Homo sapiens: one gene and its partners. The protein of the gene in region 1 interacts with the protein of each later gene in a pairwise test. Each region holds a gene or a part of one and is shown on either strand. Other genes may lie near its edges.

The links. Proteins that work in one complex are often made in the same cells at the same time.
Region 2: the proteins of ITSN2 (region 1) and WIPF2 interact in a two-hybrid assay, tested with the Homo sapiens proteins (one large-scale study listed by BioGRID).
Region 3: the proteins of ITSN2 (region 1) and MAP4K3 interact in a two-hybrid assay, tested with the Homo sapiens proteins (one large-scale study listed by BioGRID and IntAct).
Region 4: the proteins of ITSN2 (region 1) and TMF1 interact in a two-hybrid assay, tested with the Homo sapiens proteins (one large-scale study listed by BioGRID).

What each region holds. Positions count from the first base shown.
Region 1 is NC_000002.12:24,311,202-24,316,739, forward strand, and holds part of ITSN2 (intersectin-2), read right to left. Parts: intron 4,024-5,538; coding exon 3,931-4,023; intron 2,323-3,930; coding exon 2,259-2,322; intron 1,175-2,258; coding exon 1,011-1,174; intron 1-1,010.
Region 2 is NC_000017.11:40,263,285-40,267,803, reverse strand, and holds part of WIPF2 (WAS/WASL-interacting protein family member 2), read right to left. Parts: intron 3,315-4,519; coding exon 2,658-3,314; intron 1-2,657. UniProt on the Homo sapiens protein: Plays an active role in the formation of cell surface protrusions downstream of activated PDGFB receptors. Plays an important role in actin-microspike formation through cooperation with WASL.
Region 3 is NC_000002.12:39,248,766-39,253,304, reverse strand, and holds the end of MAP4K3 (mitogen-activated protein kinase kinase kinase kinase 3), read left to right. Parts: intron 1-1,419; coding exon 1,420-1,475; exon of another isoform or gene 1,476-1,480; intron 1,481-2,599; coding exon 2,600-2,687; 3' UTR 2,688-4,039; downstream 4,040-4,539. UniProt on the Homo sapiens protein: Serine/threonine kinase that plays a role in the response to environmental stress. Appears to act upstream of the JUN N-terminal pathway.
Region 4 is NC_000003.12:69,021,334-69,025,852, reverse strand, and holds part of TMF1 (TATA element modulatory factor), read left to right. Parts: intron 1-140; coding exon 141-293; intron 294-1,672; coding exon 1,673-1,798; intron 1,799-2,532; coding exon 2,533-2,676; 3' UTR 2,677-4,519. UniProt on the Homo sapiens protein: Potential coactivator of the androgen receptor. Mediates STAT3 degradation. May play critical roles in two RAB6-dependent retrograde transport processes: one from endosomes to the Golgi and the other from the Golgi to the ER.

The DNA of each region.
Region 1 (5,538 bases):
ATTTTACTTTTCTTGTAAGTAACATTCCTATGAATTCAAGGACGAGTTCTTAAAAGGAACAAAGTGATGACTTTTATTCATTTATTAACTGCAGAATACTTATAAATATGGTCACACAATGATTTAGTATTTATCTTTAGAATTCACTAAAATAGTGAAATAATTTTGTGGAGTCTGTTGTTTGTTTGAGATGGGGGTCTCACTATGTTGCCCCGACTAGAATGAAGTGGCTATTCACAGGTGCGATCATAGCACAGTACAACCTCAAACTCCTGGACTCAAGCAATCCTACCCATAGCCTCCCAAGCAGCCAGAACTACAGGCACACACCCCTATAACCAGCTCTAGAATTCTATATTCTAAGATCTGTAGTGAAGGAACATGTTTCAGATACATAGACATACCTAATTGAATGTTCCATTCAAAATGAGTGCTTCTCACATATAATTATAAGAAATTGCCTGATCAAAATTAACAGAAAACATACCAACCGGTTATCGCTGATGAATACGTGAACTTATTAGCCCAAAGTCTGCAACTTTTGGCCCTAAATTTAGCTGGCTAATTAACCTTTAAAAAAATTCAACTTACATAAAATTTTAAATTATCTCCCAAATCGAACCATTTCAAGTGAGTTTAAAACTGCTCAAAATTTTTTCTGTATTACTCACATATATATAGAGAGAGAGGAAACTAAGAATAGTATTTGGGATTGGCTATACCTAGGGAGACCATATAATTCATCACGCAACTAGGAGTTGTAAAAGGAGACACTAACTGGACCAGATGCCAGGACAAAAGGCATAAATCAGAACTGTCCCTAGAAAACCAGAACACATGGATCCCCTACCTGTGACAGTGAATTTAATATTTATTATCTCTAACATGAAAATTAACTTGGAATCTGGGGACTGTCATTTTGTGCTAACAAATCCTTTTCTAATACTCAAATATGCCTAGGGATAAAGTTTAAGTAGCAAATACAGGTATTTAAATTAATACATACTTACCAAAACGAGCAGAAATTAATGGAGAAAACATAGGGGGTTGCTTCATAATAGGAGGGAGAACCACAGGCAACTGTTGGCCTTGAAGCTTCAGTTTGATGAGTTTCATAGCTATGGAGAACTCTTGCTGATCCATCTTCCCATCCTTGTTTAGGTCTGATAAAGCCCTAAAAGGAGCATGAGGTAGGTAGATTGCTATGTGGTGTGGTGGTGGGAAAACTAACGTTATTTTGGGGATTGACAAAGTAAAAATGATGATATGGCATTCACGTGTACATCATCACTAAATTTAAAATATCTAACATGTAAAATATATAATAACAAAAAGATAAAACCTACACTTTAAGAAATACTGACCAGAGATAATAACTAATAAAACACTGCCTGTCAAAACAGAATCTAGAGACCTTTGGGCTGAATTCCACCAGTTTAGGTAGAAAAAAATTCAAGATTATAATACTTCTAAATTTAATTTATTCATCTGTCCAAATATTTACTGAATACTTGCTATGTGCCTCGTACTCTACCAGGCATGAGAATATTCCAAGTGGAAAGATGGGACAGGGGTTGTTACTTATTGTAAACGTTTTTAAAAAAACAGATATTATAGAGAATAGTTTCTTTAAAGAAGGAGCAGGGGAAGCGAGGACTAATTTGGGGTTTATAGATTATGAAATAAATGAAACTACAAAATAACAGAAAGAGGATTTTGAGATTCTGCCAAATTATAAGGAAATTTTTCTCAATGATAATGTATATATCTTTCCTTAGAAAATTCTAATGAAATTAGAAATTTGTCCTAGAGAACTAAACCTGAATTATTTTCAATAATTTGCTCAATAAAATTTATTTTCCAAAAAACTGAAGAAATACCTTTTTTTTTTTTTTTTTTCTAAAGAGAGTCTCATTCTGTCATCCAGGCTAGGGTGCAGTGACACAATCATAGTTCACTGCAGCACTGAATTCCTGGGCTCAAGCAATCCTTCCATCTTGGCCTCCCTGAGTAGCTGGGACTAGAGGTGTGGCCACCACACCCAGCTAATTTTTTTTTTAATTTTCTGTAGAGACAGGGTTCTCACTATGTTGCCCAGCCTGGCCTCAAGCAATCCTCCTACCTCAGACTCCCAAAGTGCTGGCAGAAATATTCTTAATAACCAATAGAATGCAACTAAAAACAATTTTATGTTAACACTATATTACAAAAAAACAAAATACTATCAGAAAATTAGGTTCATCTACAAAACACTTTACCATATTTCAGCTAAAACAGGGGCCGGCAGACCTGATTGTAGGAAAAAATTACGTGCTTGATCACCTGGAGGTAATAAAAACAAAACCCAAGCAGCACATTAGTAAATGAAATTATTCCAATGCTTCTGAATAATAATGGGTATATGTTAATGATTTATTATAATTTTAATACCAATCATTAAAGAATAAGTGAAATAGAAACACATAAAAATTATTTACATAACTTTAATAAGACAGATATTTTAAAACAAAAGTCACATCTGCACTTCTATTGTATATTAATCAGTGATGAAAGATGATTCATCTCAGTTTTTCCACAATTGGGGTCTTCCTTAAAAATACTTCCACTTAGTAAAATTTATATTTAAAAACACTATTCCCTAAAAGAGTTTCAATATAAAAAGTACCAGGTGTTAGGAGAGAGAGTCCTCCATGAGTTTCTTCACACTCCTATGTGTCTTGCTCTGTATACCAATAATGTAAGACCCTAATTGCTCTCTGCCTGGGTCACTTCTCAGAATTGGGTTTGTAATGAGCAATCTTAACGAATCCGGTAACGTTTCCCACTGAGACAAGGGACAAACTTGCTTTACTGCTTGCTACAAAAGGGTGGGTTCCCCAAATTCAGTGTTCCTCTCCTGTAACACAATCATAGCATGTGTACTATTCTCCTGGGCTCTCTGCATTGTCTCTGTGGGACTTAGGGAACACTAAAGGAAACAGAAAGATAGATGCCAATGCTCATTTTGCTAGTTATGCTGTTAGTCATAAGGTTCTTTGTCTCTGACTCAGGAATCTTGGGTCTTCCACCCGTAATGGACAAAGTTATTAACCTGTAAGCAGGGTAATCAAATCCTGATACCAGGTAAGGTAATTACTATCATAGCAGTACAAATAACATGGTTAAGTAGATGGATTCCAAAATCAGCCCAAATGGTTTCAAAGCCCAGATTAACACTAACCATCTTTGTAACCTTAGGCAGTTACATAACGTCTCTTAGTCTCAGTTTCACTATTTGTAAATATAGACAACAACAGTGCCTACTTTACAGGGTTGTTGTAAAGGTTAAATAAAATAATGCACTTAGCATAGCATCTGGTATATAGTAAAAATTCAATAAATATCATTGTTCTCATAGTTACTATTATTGTATGTAAAGCACTAAGCTACTTTGGCACAGAAAAAAGTTTAATTAATAGAAAAAAATTTCAAAGGCACACCTAAATTAATCCCATTTTGGCTCTGGTGGTCTTTCTGCAAAACAAGGGCTAGCATCAACAATCAGTGCTTGGTGTAGCCTCAAAGACAGAGGGCTAGCATTAGGAAAACAGATTCCAGAAAAAAAAAGTCTAGATTTTCCATGAAATGAATCTAAGAAATAAACTGAAAACTTTCTAGATATAATGTTAAAATGTGAAACCAGACAATTACACAGAAATTCTTGACTATCATTTAGGATTCAGGAAAAATCTTCCATATCCCAAATTTAAAACAACAAATTAAGACAGTTCCAGGAAAAATAAAGTTAGCATTTCTTTAATTTCTAGAATTCTGATTGATATGAATTTTATCGTTTATTAACACAAATTTGATGGCAGTCAAATTAAAACTAATTCTTAGATATCACATAAGGACCATAATTCACTAATAAAACTAATTATAAATACAAACCTGTTATGTAACCTCCTGAAGGTTTGAGGTTATCAAACTGCCTGTCATGCTTAGTACGTTCTTCAGAGGTAATAGCCCACATGTTTGGCCCTCCTGAAACATAAGTGGAAGAAACTATAGTGTATACATGAGAATGCTTAAAATACAATTCTAAAATGTAAATAGAAATCACAAGTGTTCATTGTATGACAGTATTTAATATTTGAGTGACACAAAGAGTAGAGCTCTATCATAACCATACATAGCACAGCCCTAAGGCTTTTCACTCATTGGCTCAATTAACGTCTATTGAACAAGTGCTATATCACACTCACTGGAAATGGGCATCAAGCTAAATACTGGCAATAAAAAGATGAAGAAAATATTCCCACCCTCAAGGAATTCATGCTCTAGAAAACAACAGTACTTACAGTATTCACCTGTGAAAAATCCTAAGCAGAACTATATACTGCCATAGTTTAGCCCTGTGTCCCCACCAGAACCTCATTTCGAACTGTAATCCCCACGTGTCAGAGGAGGGGCCTGGTGGGAGATGACTGGATCATGGGAGTTGATTTCTCCCTTGTTGTTTTTGTGATAATGAGTGAGTTCCTCACAATAGCTGATGGTTTTAAAGTGTGGCACTTCCCCCCTTGCTGCTTCTCTCTCTCCTGCTGCCACGTTAAGATGTGCTTTGCATCCCCTTCGCCTTACACCTTAAGTTTCCTGAGGCCTCTCCAGCCATGTGGAACTGTGAGTCAATTAAACCCTTTTTTTCATAAATTACTCAGTCTCAGCTAGTTCTTTATAGCAGTGTGAAAACAGACTAATACAGATACCAAAACAGCTGTGCCAATTCTGAGTTAGAAGCACCAAGGATGAGATAACAGGAAAGGTAACACTGAGGCAGAGCCTTGAAGCTTGGTTTGAATTTTGCCACGTGAAGAGGAGGGATAAGAACATTTCACACCATAAGGGCACAGCATGAGAAGTCAAGGCATGTGCAAGGTGCTGTTAAGTGCACTGAGCAGACTAATAACTAGAGTTAGTAATAATAAACAGGTAGGGTGGAATTAACTGTAAAAAGGTCTTAAATACCATCCTCAAGAGCCTGACCCCATACCCTGGAAGTTATAGAGAGCCATCTAGTAGTTTTTATTATTTTATTATTTATTTATTTATTTATTTTGAGACAAAGTCTTGCTCTGTCACCAGGCTGGAGAGCAGCAGAGTGATCTCGGCTCACTGCAGCCTCCGCCTCCTGGGTTCAAGCAATTCTCCTGCCTCAGCCTCCCAAGTAGCTGGGACTACAGGCATGCGCCACCACACACCCGGCTAATTTTTGTATTATTAGTAGAGACAGGGTTTCACCATGTTGGCCAGGATGGTCTTGATCTCCTGACCTCATGATCCACCCACCTCGGCCTCCCAAAGTGCTGGGATTACAGGCGTAAGCCACCACGCCCAGACAGTTTTTAAATAAGCTTTTAATTTGGAATAATTTTAGATTTACAGAAAATTCACAAAGATAGTACATGGCTCCTATATACCTTTCACCCAATTTCTACTATGTTAACAACTGACACAACCATAGTACATTTGTCAAAACAAAGACATTAACAGTCTGGT
Region 2 (4,519 bases), on another chromosome or scaffold:
AAGCTAAGGGCTGGGCGCAGTGGCTCACTTGAGGTCAGGAGTTTGAGACCAGCCTGGCCAACACGGCGAAAACCCGTTTCTACTAAAAATACAAAAATTAGCCAGATATGGTGGCACATGCCTGTAATTCCAGCTAGTCAGGAGGCTGAGACACAACAATCACTTGAACCTGGGAGGAAGAGGTTGCAATGAGCAGAGATTGCACCACTGCACTCCAGCCTGGGCGAAAGAGCAAGGCTCTGTCTCAAAACACAAACAAACAAATAAATAAATAAAGGCCAAGAAGCTGTTTGTGGAGGGTATGTCTCAAAGTCTAATGATACAACGATATGGGAGCCAAAATTCCCATGTCCAATAAGGCCCCAGAGAGCTGTCACGGTCTCCCTCACTCTAAAATTTCAGTTATGCTAATTATAACGAGATTACACAACCTCTTCTTTTTCCAGGGTTCCTAAATTCCCTCCTCACCCAGCTTAGGCTCCATTATTGCAATCACTCCCTCACATACACCCTTCCCTTCCTGCCCCACTCTCCCTTAGAGTCGCACATGCCTAAAACATGCTAACGCTGGTTAAACACAGCTCTACTCTTTTTCTGTACCTGCAAATCACAACTGAACACATGAGACTAATTAATCTCACATGAAATGTATGGCCCATAATCTCAAGTGGGCCCTTCGCGTGGTTGCCTATCTGAGCACACTTCCCTAGTCCACCCACACTCCCACGCTCCAGATGACCATTTCATGCCTCTTCTCTCTCCTCAACTCTCCTTCTCCTTCCCTCGCCTCAATCACAGCTGATGCTCTTGCTTTCCATTTCACTGAGAAAACAGAAGCAAATTAGAATAAACTTTCCACATGCTTCTACCACTACACCCACCTACCCACTTGCTTCTAAGCCTATATGCTCTGCCTCCCCTCTTGTTACTATGGAAGAACTATGTTCCTATCTAAGGCCAACCCTTTTTATCTATCGATCACATTCTCTTTTCTCTGGCCTCCTCCAGGTCATTATTCAGGCAATCTGTTCCCTCTCTTCTGATTCAATTTTTTCCCTCTCTCCTAAGTTTCATGCTACTCATTCCATCAGCATACAAATAGGTCTCCCATCTTGGGATGGGAAAAAAACAACTCTCAACCCCACATCTTCGTCCAACAATCACTTCACTTATCTTCACCCCTCTCTCCTGGACTTTACAGCGAACTCTTTAAGAGATTTCTATATTGCTATCTCCAATTTCTCTCCTCCTATTCCTGCATTCTTGAACCCACTCCAATTAAGCTTTCACTTTCACCCTCCACCACTCCACTGAAACTACTCAAAAGGGTCCCATGATACTAAGACCAATGCCAGTTCTTGGTCTTTAACTTACCTGACCCATCTGCAGCACTGGGCACAGCTGACCACTTACTCTACCTTGGAGTTTTTCCATCACATTCTTGGTTTTTCTCCTTCCATCCTCACTAGAAGCTTTTCTGTTTCCTCTGCTGGGTATTCTTCATCTCTTTTGCCTCTAATGTAGGAGGGCGAGGGCTCAGCCCTCATTTTTTTTTTTTTTTTTTTTGAGATGGACTGTCACTCTGTCGCCCAGGCTGGAGTGCAGTGGCGTGATCTCGGCTCACTGCAACCTCTGCCTCCTGAGTTCAAGCGATTCTCCTGCCTCAGCCTCCTAGGCCTCTTCTTATCTATATTCACTCCTTAGGTGACTTCATCCAGCATGTGGTTTTCAACACCATTCAAATGTATCTCTCTAGCCGAAACCTCTCCCCTCAACTTTGGAGTCTGATAGCCAATTACCAATTCATTGTCTCTTCTTGATTACCTAACAGGCATCTCAAACTTGTCTCAAACTGAACACCTATCTTCCCACAAATTCACAGTAGTCCTAACCATCTGGCCGTTTACTGCAACAGCCCAGTAACTGGTCTCCTTTTGTCACCTTTGTCCTCCTGCGGTCTGTTCTCAACATAGGAGTTAATGATCTTTTTAAAAGGTGAATCAAATCATACTACTTCTCTGTTTAAAACCCTCCAGTGGCTTCCCATCTCACACAGTTAAATCCAAGGTCTTTGCAAAATCCTGCAGTGCGCTCTCCCCTGCAGCTCCAGCTTTCCAACCTCCAAGTCCTACCACTCTTCCCTCCCCTCACTCTTTGTAGTCTTGCCACAATGGCCCCCTTGCTGTCCCCAAAATGTTTCAAGAATACTTCTGCCTTATGGCCTCTGCATTTGTTGTTCCCACTGCCTGCAACAGCTGTTCTCCTAGATAACTACTAAGCTTACTCGTCACTTTCTTAAGGTCTTTGTCAAATTTTCACCGTATCAGTAAGGACTGTCCTGACTCTCTCCCCACTCCTCCAATTAAAGATATCATCATCCCGACCTCCGCCCCAGTATATCTTATTCCTCTCCTCTGCTTTGTAATTCTCTAAAGCATACTGCATACTATGTATTTATATATTTTACTAGTTTGACTGTCAAATTTTTTTGTCTTTTCTATTTATTGCTATTTCCCTACCAACAGACCTGACACATAAAAAGGTACTCAATAAACCCACTGAGTGAATAAACGAATTACTGTCTTCAAGGAGTGCTCTGGGGAAAGATAAAATCAACTCACAGCATGATAGGGAAAAAGGTGCTTCCAAGCACTTACCTGCTCCCCGACTGGGAGGGTCTCGGGCTGGGGGAGGTGGCCTATTACTCAGTAAAGATGGGGAGGCCGAGGTGGGTGGAGGAGGTGCTAGGCCTCTGACAGGCCCTGGTGTCTTCCTATGCAAAGAATTGTGTCTCTGTGGCAGCTCAGGGGCTGACTCATTAGTGGGGCTAGAGGGTCCATTGGGGACCCCAGGAGGCTGGCGGTAAGGCGGAGGAGGAGGAGCCAGAGACTGGCCACTTGGTCCTGTTCTGATATTCACAGGGGAAGGAGGTGGTTTGACTGGGGGTGGAGCAGGAGGTCCCTCTCGACCAGGGTGAAGCCTTTGTCCAGGCGTCGGTGGCAAGGGTTTCTCTCTGTTGTAGGCGGGGGCTTTGCTGCTGTGCATAGGCAGAGGTGTGGGGGGTGCGTTGGCACGCCGCCCTGGGGGTGGTGGGGGAGGGGCAGAGGAGCTGTGCTTCATGCCCGTACTGCTGGTGGTATTAGGCCGAGAGAGGTCCGGTAAAGAGGGTCTCTGCATCCGGGGCAGTTCTGGGAGTGAGGCCCGGCTGCTGTCTGTATCATCCTGAGGACGCCCGCTGGCGGCAGATACTGGAGGCCTTGGGGCAGCAGCTCGAGAACTGGGGATTTGCAGGGCTGGCTTACCAGCTAGGTTCTCTACAAATACATAGACAACACAGGGTCAACAGAGCTGGACAGATATTGGTCAGTATCCCTACTTCACTCGGCTCCTTAGTGCAACCTGCATGGCAGCAGGGAAAGGAATTGAATAATTCTGGGTTTTTTGTTTTTCTTTTTTTTTTTTTTTTTTTTTTTTTTTGAGACGAAGTTTCGCTGTTGTTGCCTAGGCTGGAGTGCAATGGTGCAATCTCAGCTCACTGCAACCTCTGGGTTCAAGTGATTCTCCTGCCTCAGCCTCCCGAGTAGCTGGGATTACAGGTGTGCGCCACCACACCTGGCTGATTTTTGTATTTTTAGTAGAGATGGGGTTTCACCACGTTGGACAGGCTGGTCTCGAAATCCCAACCTCAGGTGATCTGCCCACCTCGGCTTCCCAAAGTGATGGGATTACAGGCGTGAGCCACCACGTCCGGCCTAGTTCTGGGTTTTAATACGGTTTCAGGCTCAGGATACACTGTTATTTATTTTAAATGTTACTTTATTTTTGACAAGTAATAATTTTATGTATTTATGGGGTACAATGTCTCGTTATATGTATACGTTGTGGAATGATTAAATCAAACTAACATATCCATCACCTCACATATTTTTTTTAATGGTGAAAACACTTAAAATCTACTCTACAACAGGCGCAGTGGCTCATGCCTGTAATCCCAGCACTTTGGGAGGCCAAGGTGGACAGATCACTTGAGGTCAGAAGTTTGAGACCAGCCTGGCCAACATGGTGAAACCCCGTCTCTACTAAAACTACAAAAATTAGCCAGGTGTGGTGGCCTGTGCCTGTAATCCCAGCTACTTGGGAGGCTGAGGCAGGAGAATGGCTTGAACCCAGGAGGCGGAAGTTGCAGTGAGCCAAGATGGCACCACTGCACTCCAGCCTGGGCGACAGAGCAAGACTCCATTTGCGGGGGGGGGGGGGACGAATAAATAAAATAAAATAAAATAAAATATACTCTTTTAGCAATTTTGAAATATACATTAAGTATAATAAGGGGTCGCCAACCCCTGGGGCCATGCACCTGTACAGGTCAGTGGCCTGTTAGGAACAGGGCACACAGAAGGTGAGCGAGCAAGCATTACTGCCTGAGCAACGCCTACTGTCAGACCAGCAGCAGCATTAGATTCTCATAGGAGGGCGAACCCCATTGTGAACCGTGCATGTGAGGGATCTAGGTTGCATG
Region 3 (4,539 bases), about 15 Mb from region 1:
AAAATTAGCCAGGCGTGGTGGCGCGTGCCTCTAGTCCCAGCTACTCGGGAGAGGCTGAGGCAGGAGAATCGCTTGAACCCAGGAGGCGGAGGTTCCAGTGAGCCAAGATCGCGTCACTGTACTCCAGCCTGGCGACAGAACAAGACTCCGTCCCCCTCCAAAAAAAAGGTGGCTGCTACGATGTTTCTAAAAGTAATCCCCACAAGTGGGCTCACACTTTCTAAAATCACGTGAGGAACTGAGCAGGGAGATAAGAACAGTCAACAGCTAATAAACACTAGTCAGAGAAAGAAAAGCATTACAGACAAATACAGAAGTGGTTTAAAAACTAAAAGGAAAAAGTTCACCCAAAAAGTCACCTGAGAACTACACAGGCAGCCCATCAATACACACCTCCAAAAATGTTAGCTTCTTCTAGTAGGCAAACCCCAAAATATATTGGTAATCACAGTCATGATGAGCCACAGGCATTGAAGTGAGCATGCTGAGCATGTTGTTTCCTGCAGGTATGCTGGGTTACAACAGAAGCTAAGAGTCATTAGTGTTTCTAGAAAATCTAATTGTAGGGGTATTGATGGAATAAATTTAATTTCAAATCCATTTTTTCTTCAGCCTACCAAATTTTGGGGAGATGCTAACTGCCCTTCTAATTCATAATATTTTGTGTTCAGTAAGCTGTGAATAGTTGGTTTCTCTTTTTCTTGTATATTTATTCTTAATTCCCCAACTGGTAGTTGGTCACACTGAGGACTTCTTGAAGGATATATGGTCATTAGAAAATATTATTTCAAGAGAATGGGGAAGAAGTGGGAAAGATAATTATTATGTATTGAGCACTTCCTTAGCTAGGCATTATACCCACTAATCCTTATAAGAACACTGCAGGGCTCTACTGCATGGTAGATCTTTTCTATCCCATCTTGCATAAGGCAAAACCATTTCTAGCGGATTACATACGTTGCCCAGTAAGTGGGAGAACTGACAGTCAAACTCAAGGCATGTCTGCCTTTTAAATATTTCCTGTTACACTACGTGGCAGCCTTTTTAAGTAAAAGAAGCAGATCTAAGTAGCTTACTGCTGCCAGTAACCTTGCCATTAGCGTTAACATAAATGATGAAAGTTTCTAATAAATAAAATGGATTTAGTGCTTTGCTTTTAAGTTTTTCCCTTGAAGTCTTATGATTTAACAAGGAAATCATTTTCCTTTGCCTGCATTTTATGATTAACTCAAAATTAACCACATTTCCCCTCGACTAACAAATTGATGTATCTACATGCTGACTTTAACAAACAGTCATGCAGGAATATGTTTTCATTTTTAGCGATCATGTTTCTTTTCTGTTGAATTATAATGAAGTGCCCATTAAAAATTTTGTGTCTTTAATTTCAGAAATTAAATTTGTGTTTTAATTGAACAGGTAACACAAGAAATTTCAGATAGCACAAGAATTTTCAGGCTGCTTGGATCTGACAGGTATGAAAACGGACTGTATTAAATACACAGTACTAAACGTGTTTTATAGATCCAGCATGAAACAGATTTCTTTTTCAAGAGAATTGAAATGTCTGCAATATGTTCAACATTGAATTTTTCACACTATAAGAATTCACAGGTCAGAAAGTTAGCCTTTGAAAATGTACCTGATCTTCCAAGTAACAGGAATGTATGGATCTGTCAGTACTAGTTTCCATTAAACATACTGACATCTGATTTGCAGCAGAAGAAAGAGGAAATACCATATGTTAATGAACAGAACTTTGTGTTGTTAATGCCGATAGGATTTTGGAGACCTGTTCTGATTGACTGTAAGACATTGGTCAGGGTGGTGGGAGAGATTATAAAGTTATAGGAAATAGACACAAACCTTCTTGGAAGGCCAGAAGGTTTGCATAGCTTCAGTAAAAGATTTGGCTGAAGGCAGCTGAATTCTCTTAAAAGCTTAGGGCATAGATACATAGGAATGTAGAGGAGTTTATCTAAATAGCTTGTTTACTCATGTTGTCCTAAAACCAACCTTTGATCATGCGGGCAGGACTGCTCTTTCCTGGGGAGGGCAACCTGATAAATTACCCACAAGTAGGTTGACTCAAAGCCTTTGTCATTAAATCTGTGCTGAATAAATGCCTGCAGGGACAGCTAGTCAGGGCACACGGCCACTACAACTCTTTCTGTGAGCGCCCTGGCCCCCTAGCCAGTCTTTCACTGAATACCAGTGTCTGGGTACGTTATTCATCCATTGTGCAGCGTGGGTCTCTGGGTCAGACCCTGGCAATTTAGCTTCTGGTTCTTGAACTGCAAATCGTTTTTAGAACTTGTAATAAGAATTAAGTTCCCCCAAATAATTTCTAATATAGGTTTCTCCCCACTTCTGACTCTTAGAAGAACACTGGCCTAGAGGTGGGAGGTAGTGGACAGCAAAATTACTTCCCAGAGCTAGAACTGGCCCTGTAATCACAGTGATAGCAAATGATTTCTGCCCACGATCAAATGAGCAGCATTTATAGAGGCACATATTGGAGAAGCAATGGAAAATTTGGGAGCTAACATTAATTTTCAGGAATAACTTTGTTTTGTTATATGTTTTTTATTACTTTCAGGGTCGTGGTTTTGGAAAGTAGGCCAACTGATAACCCCACAGCAAATAGCAATTTGTACATCCTGGCGGGTCATGAAAACAGTTACTGAGAATTGTTGTGCTTTGACAGTTAACTCTAGAAAGAAAGAACACTACCACTGCAACATTAATGGATGCTTGAAGCTGTACAAAAGCTGCAGTAACCTGTCTTCAGTTACTTTGTAATTTATTGTGGCATGAGATAAGATGGGGAAAATTTTGTTTTAAGTGGTATGGATATATTTAGCATATTGAACCACACAAGTGCTTAATTCATTGTTATGTAATCTTTGTACATATAGGCAGTATTTTTTCTGTGAAACTTCATATTGCTGAAGACATACACTAAGAATTTATGTAGATAATGTACTTTTATGAGATGTACAAGTAAGTGTCTTATCTGTACAGATGTAAATGTTGATGAAAATGCAATTGGGGTTAATATTTTAAGAATTCTTTAGTATATTCTTGGGTGTGGCTATATTACAAAATGGGATGCTGGCAATGAAACAATACATTTAACACTATTGTATTTTTATTATATGTAATTTAGTAATATGAATATAAATCTTGTAACTTTTAAAATTGTAATGGAGGCTGTAATCATTTTATAATCTTTTTAATTTTAATGCAAGTACACTGGTGTTTATATTTGCACAAAGTATTGATATGTGATGTATTAAGTCACAAAAGTAAGCTGTGACATTGTCTATAAGCATTTGGCTCCACAAATGTATTTGGATTGTTTTCTATGTGAAGCAAACCAATTATAATTAACCACATGTTGTAGTAACTGGTCTTTTTATATTTAAGCAGAATCCTGTAAGATTGCTTGTCTTTGCTTAAAAACAATACCTTTGAACATTTTTGAATCACAGAATAGCGGTACCATGATAGAATACTGCAATTGTGGTCAGAATTACAGTATGCACAAAGAATTAATTAGCATTATTAAAGAGTCCTCACTAAACATTTCATATGATCACACTGAAGAACTGTAACATTCCATAGAGTGAAGTGGTTCAAATTTCTCTTGGAATTTTTACTTTTGTTGGCCTTATTTTATGATCCTTTTCATATTTCTTTTGACTTAGAGTATTAATACATGGCCAAAATAATTTAGTTACTACCTCATACAAACAATATAATGGTTACTACACATCACAGGAACTTAGTTTTGGTTTAAGTCATTTTTGATTGCTTTTTTCCAATGGAATATGTATATACCAGGTTTTAGCAAAATGCACACTTTTGGCTCTTTTTGGTATATGTTCTTTATATTTTAATGTGAGTATATACACTAAGAACAAACTAAATTGTGATTTATGATCTTCATTTATTTTAATGATAATGGTTTTAAAATATGTTCCTGATTGTACATATTGTAAAATAAACATGTTTTTTAACATGCTGTTGTATAGTAGCTTGTCATCTGGTTTAATCTGTATATAGTAACACTAAAATATATTAAGAGGGGAAAGCTTTATTTGTTTTGTAGTTAAATTCTTAAGTATTGAATTTTGGTCCCTCAAATCATGATTTTTATTTGATATGGGGTTTCAGTTTCATGAAGCATTAATATTTCCACACAGGAGAAAAGGGCATCTTTTGCAGAAACTTCGACTTCCTGATAAGAAAAGTCAAACATTCATAGTTTTCTGGTTAGAGGCAGGGGTCCACAAACTACAGTCCTCAGACCAATCCAGCCTACTGCCTGTTCTTGTAAATAAAGTTTTAATGGAGCACAACACCACGTATTCACTCACATGCTGTCTATGCTGCTTTGGTGCTACAATATTTGAGTTGAGTGGCTTCTGAAACACTATATGGTCTGAAAAGCCTAAAATTCTTACTTTGCTGACCCTTTACAGAAAAAATGTGCTAGTGCCTGGGTTAGAGAAAGTAAGGAAGCATTGGGAAATG
Region 4 (4,519 bases), on another chromosome or scaffold:
AGAGGAAACACGTGAATGATTTTCTGCCTTTGAGAAGACATTTAAAGCAAAAATTGACAGAACCATTTTTGTTCGAACCTGGTAATGGAAGACAAGCTATGATAACTGAGTAACTGTGTGAACTTTCTTAATTAACATAGGATGAGTCTCATGATCACTCATTTGGACCAATGCCTATATCAGCAAATGGAAGCAATCTTTATGATGCTGTAAGGATGGGAGCAGGATCAAGCATAATTGAAAACCTACAGTCTCAGCTAAAGCTAAGGGAAGGGGAAATCACTCATTTACAGGTATTGGAAAAATTAAATTTGCTATAGAAGTAAATGAAGTTTTGAGGCCTAATAAATAGCACCCTTCATTTCCATCTGAATTCTGAGCAAATTGAGAAACAAGATGACATAGTGGCATGTGAAGCCCAAAATGTATCACATATATCAATGATAAAGGCTAAAAAGAGAAATTAGCTAAGGATAACAGCCAACTGAACCTGCTAATTGCCAGAATTAGGCATATTCGGCTGATCTGTCACAGGAAATGCTGGGCTGGAGCAGGCCTCCCATGTTTTACAACCTGCCTACATAAGACATAAGCATCTAGGAGCAGAGAATCCCTCCTCCTTTCAAGCAGCTCTTTCCCAACAGAATAAAGGGAAGTCACTGAGCTGTGAATGCCTGTTCTATTCAGATTTACCTCTTAGATAAGTTGTTCCAGCTACCCCGGGAAGGAGGGGTAAAGGGGATGAGATGTTTGAACTGTAACACCCTGTACATGGGAGGAAACAACATGAGTTGTTGATGGAGCATCCTTCCATCTTACCTTTTTGGCTTTTAAAAAACTTTATGCAGTCAGAAATATTGAAATGTTTTACAGGTTTGAGCATCCCAGCTCTGAAATCTGAAATGCCCCCAAATCCAAAACTTTGAGTGCTGACATGCTGCTCAAAGGAAAAGCTCAATTGAGCATTTTGGATTTCCAGATTTGGGATGCTCAACCAGTAAGTACATAATGCAATTATTCCATAATCTGAAAAAAAAAAAAAAAAAAAAAGAAATTTGAAACATTCCTGGTCTCAAGCATTTTGAATCAGGATACCTCTTTTCAGTGTTAAACACAATACACTCAGAAGTAGGTAAAAATTCAACTCCCATTATATACTTTTAGTTATATGAAAATATTAAAGAACTTGAATTGGCAAAAAGTAGATCAGACTAATCTGAATCCCAGATGTTTGTATAGCTGGTATGCTATACAGGGACCTAATTAATTTCTTTGGTAGTGATGAAAGCCTCTGTCGATACAACCTACACAGGTGGGGCTACGTTAAAGTATATTTTTATTTCTCTGGGTTCTTGTAGTAATTTAGAATAACTGAAATATATGTCATTTCCTTAGATTAGAAAAATATATGGTTGAATGTTTTCAAACAAATAATTGGATTTATCTCTGTTGCACAGTAAACCTTATAAACGGTATACCTCTCAGGAAAGTTGGGACCGTTTTTCTGCCACTGTTTCCTTTACTTAAGAAAGAGCTAGCTCAAGGTTATATGTTGACATGTCTATTTCAAAAAAAAAAAAAAAACCACACACACATTAAATATTTTTATATTACTGGGAGTATTAAAAAAGATATGTTTTGATTTAAACTATTTTGTGGTAATGCTTCTCAGCTAGAAATTGGCAATCTAGAAAAAACTCGATCAATAATGGCTGAAGAACTAGTTAAATTAACAAATCAAAATGATGAACTTGAAGAGAAGGTGAAGGAGATACCCAAACTTAGAACTCAGCTAAGAGTAAGTATTCTTCACCTAAGGATGAGTCTAAGATATTTTAGTTCATTTACTTTAAATCTCATGTTTTTAATTTATAGTATGTGTTAGTGATTTATTTGAAAATTAAAGAGTACTAATATTTGAGCAAAGAAGTTTAAAAATGAATCTTTTATCTTGCTTGTATCTTTACATATTCAAAGTAATTTTCACAATCATGTTTAGTCCCAGTATAGGAAAAGAACTAGATTTCATTTGGCTACACTTCATTTATAACATTGAACTTTGTATGATCTTAGTAATATTTTGTTGATTGTTGTTATATGTATCATCACAATTGTCTCATCTGGATGTTAGAAGACACTGTTAAGCCATAAGTGAGAATATGTTTTCTTTTGATCTTTCCTGTGGTGTGGGCTAAATGCCGGGTAATACTTATACCACCATGGAACAAAGAGACTAAATTTTATATCAAGTGTGCTTACATTAATGGGAGAGAAGTCATATATGGGGAGAATTGTAGATTTAGTGGAGAGATAGGGTAAAATTGATAGCCATCTAGCTTGGTTTTTTTCTTTAATTCCTTTTTTTGCTATTTAGTTCAACATAGACTGAAGTGTGAGTTTAATTTTTAAAAGAGATGAGTATATACTTTTATTTAAATTGTAGTGTTTTCATTGTTGACTCCTATGGCAATATAAATATTAAAGATGTTCTGTGTAGTTATTTTAAAAATTGTAAACAAATACATTTTTCAGGATTTGGATCAAAGGTACAACACTATTCTGCAGATGTATGGAGAAAAAGCAGAAGAGGCAGAAGAACTTCGATTAGATCTCGAAGATGTAAAAAATATGTACAAAACTCAAATAGATGAACTTTTAAGACAAAGTCTCAGTTAACTTGTGAAAATTGAATTCCCATCAAACTGAATGTAAGCATTTAATATCTAAACATTTAATGTGGACTTCCAATAAATTCTTTTATAGAATTAGAAAGTGGGATTTACTGTAGAGTGTAAAAATTTTTTTAAAATTGTTTTACACTATGTAGTAATATTTACAGTTAAATTATTTTGTGCAATATTTGAACTTTATTTTTGAAACTATTCTTTAAAGATTTATTTTTTAAAGCATTCATTTTTTTTCCTTGAATAGCACAGAGATTTATTACTTTATCCTCATATAAATATGGCTAGAGAAGAAGAATGGTGTTCATATATGTATTGTAGATATACAACTAGTTGTATCTATAATTTGTAAGTGTTTATATATATATTAAGAACATTTGAAGAGTAATGTTAACATACTGAAACTTTGAAATCTTTCACATTTAAAATTTCAACATATCTTAATTACTGCTCATGAAAATGTACATTAAGTGTTAAAGTAAAAAATTATTAAATCTGTGGCTATTAAATTTTAAACTAATTTTTTTCCTTTAAAAGTAAGAGTCACACTGACACTGTCTGAAATTTAAAGAGTGAATGATTTAAACTTAAAAAAAATTTTGATCTGAAAATTTATTTCACCCAGCTTTCACAATTAAGTCTGTATAAAATGTGGTACCTTTTGGTACCTATCCAGAGAAACCTGTACATATTCAATGTTATCTAGATGTGATTGGATAATGGAGAAAATTTATTTATAATGATTTTGCAATGGCATCAATAACATTTAAATGATTTTGAAGAAGTATTATTTTACTACCCTATAAAATGAATCGAAAATAATAAAGTTCTTAACATAATTTACTCTTTAAAAATTACCTGTTCATATTTTGTAAACCCATATTTTTAGCACATTAAAAATGAATGTTTGATATTACAGAATATTCATAACAAAATGGAAGAATTATAGGAATTAACTTGAATTTGGCATTTTTAATTTTGTGATTTATCATTTTATTTTTTCTTGAAATTTCAAACACAAGGAAAGCATAGAATAGCTTTTAAAAGTAGCTATGCCTTCTTCCAAATGTTATTTTATTCAAAAAGGTAACCAGGTTGTGTTTTAAACCTGTGAAATATTGTGATGCATTTTATTACTGAAAGTTATTTAACTGCCTTTACTTGCACATAAAAACTCTCATTTACGGCCAGGTGCTGTGGCTCATGCCTGTAATCCCAGCACTTTGGGAGGCCAAGGCGGGCATATCACCTGATGTCAGGAGTTCAAGACCAGCATGGCCAGCAGTTTGGTGAAACCCCATCTCTACTAAAAATACAAAAATTAGCCTGGCGTGGTGGTGTGCGCCTGTAATCCTAGCTACTCGGGAGGCTGAGGCAGGAGCATTGCTTGAACCTGGGAGGTGGAGGTTACAATGAGCCAAGATTGTGCCACTGCACTCCAGCATGGGTGACAGAGAAAGACTCCGTCTCAAAAAAAAAAAAACAAACTCTTATTTAATTTTTAGTTAAAATTAAAACACTAGTACTTCAGAATATAGATACAAGTACACCATCTTGAAGAATTTGGAGTTTTTCAGGGCAATTCAAATGACCTCATTTTTTGTTCTTTTTGTATTCCAGACAGTGTTTCTGTCATTGGATCTCTGATTGGTAGTGTTAATAAATATTCTTTCAGTGTGAGCCAGATTCATAAAATTAATTTTCTTCATTTTAGTAGTAAAAAGTAGTCTAATAGCTTTTTGTCAGCTTGATTTTTTTGTGTGTGTAATATTCAAGGGCAGAATGACAGGACAGATAAGCAATAAGAAATGTATAGAATTAGAAAATATAGTAGT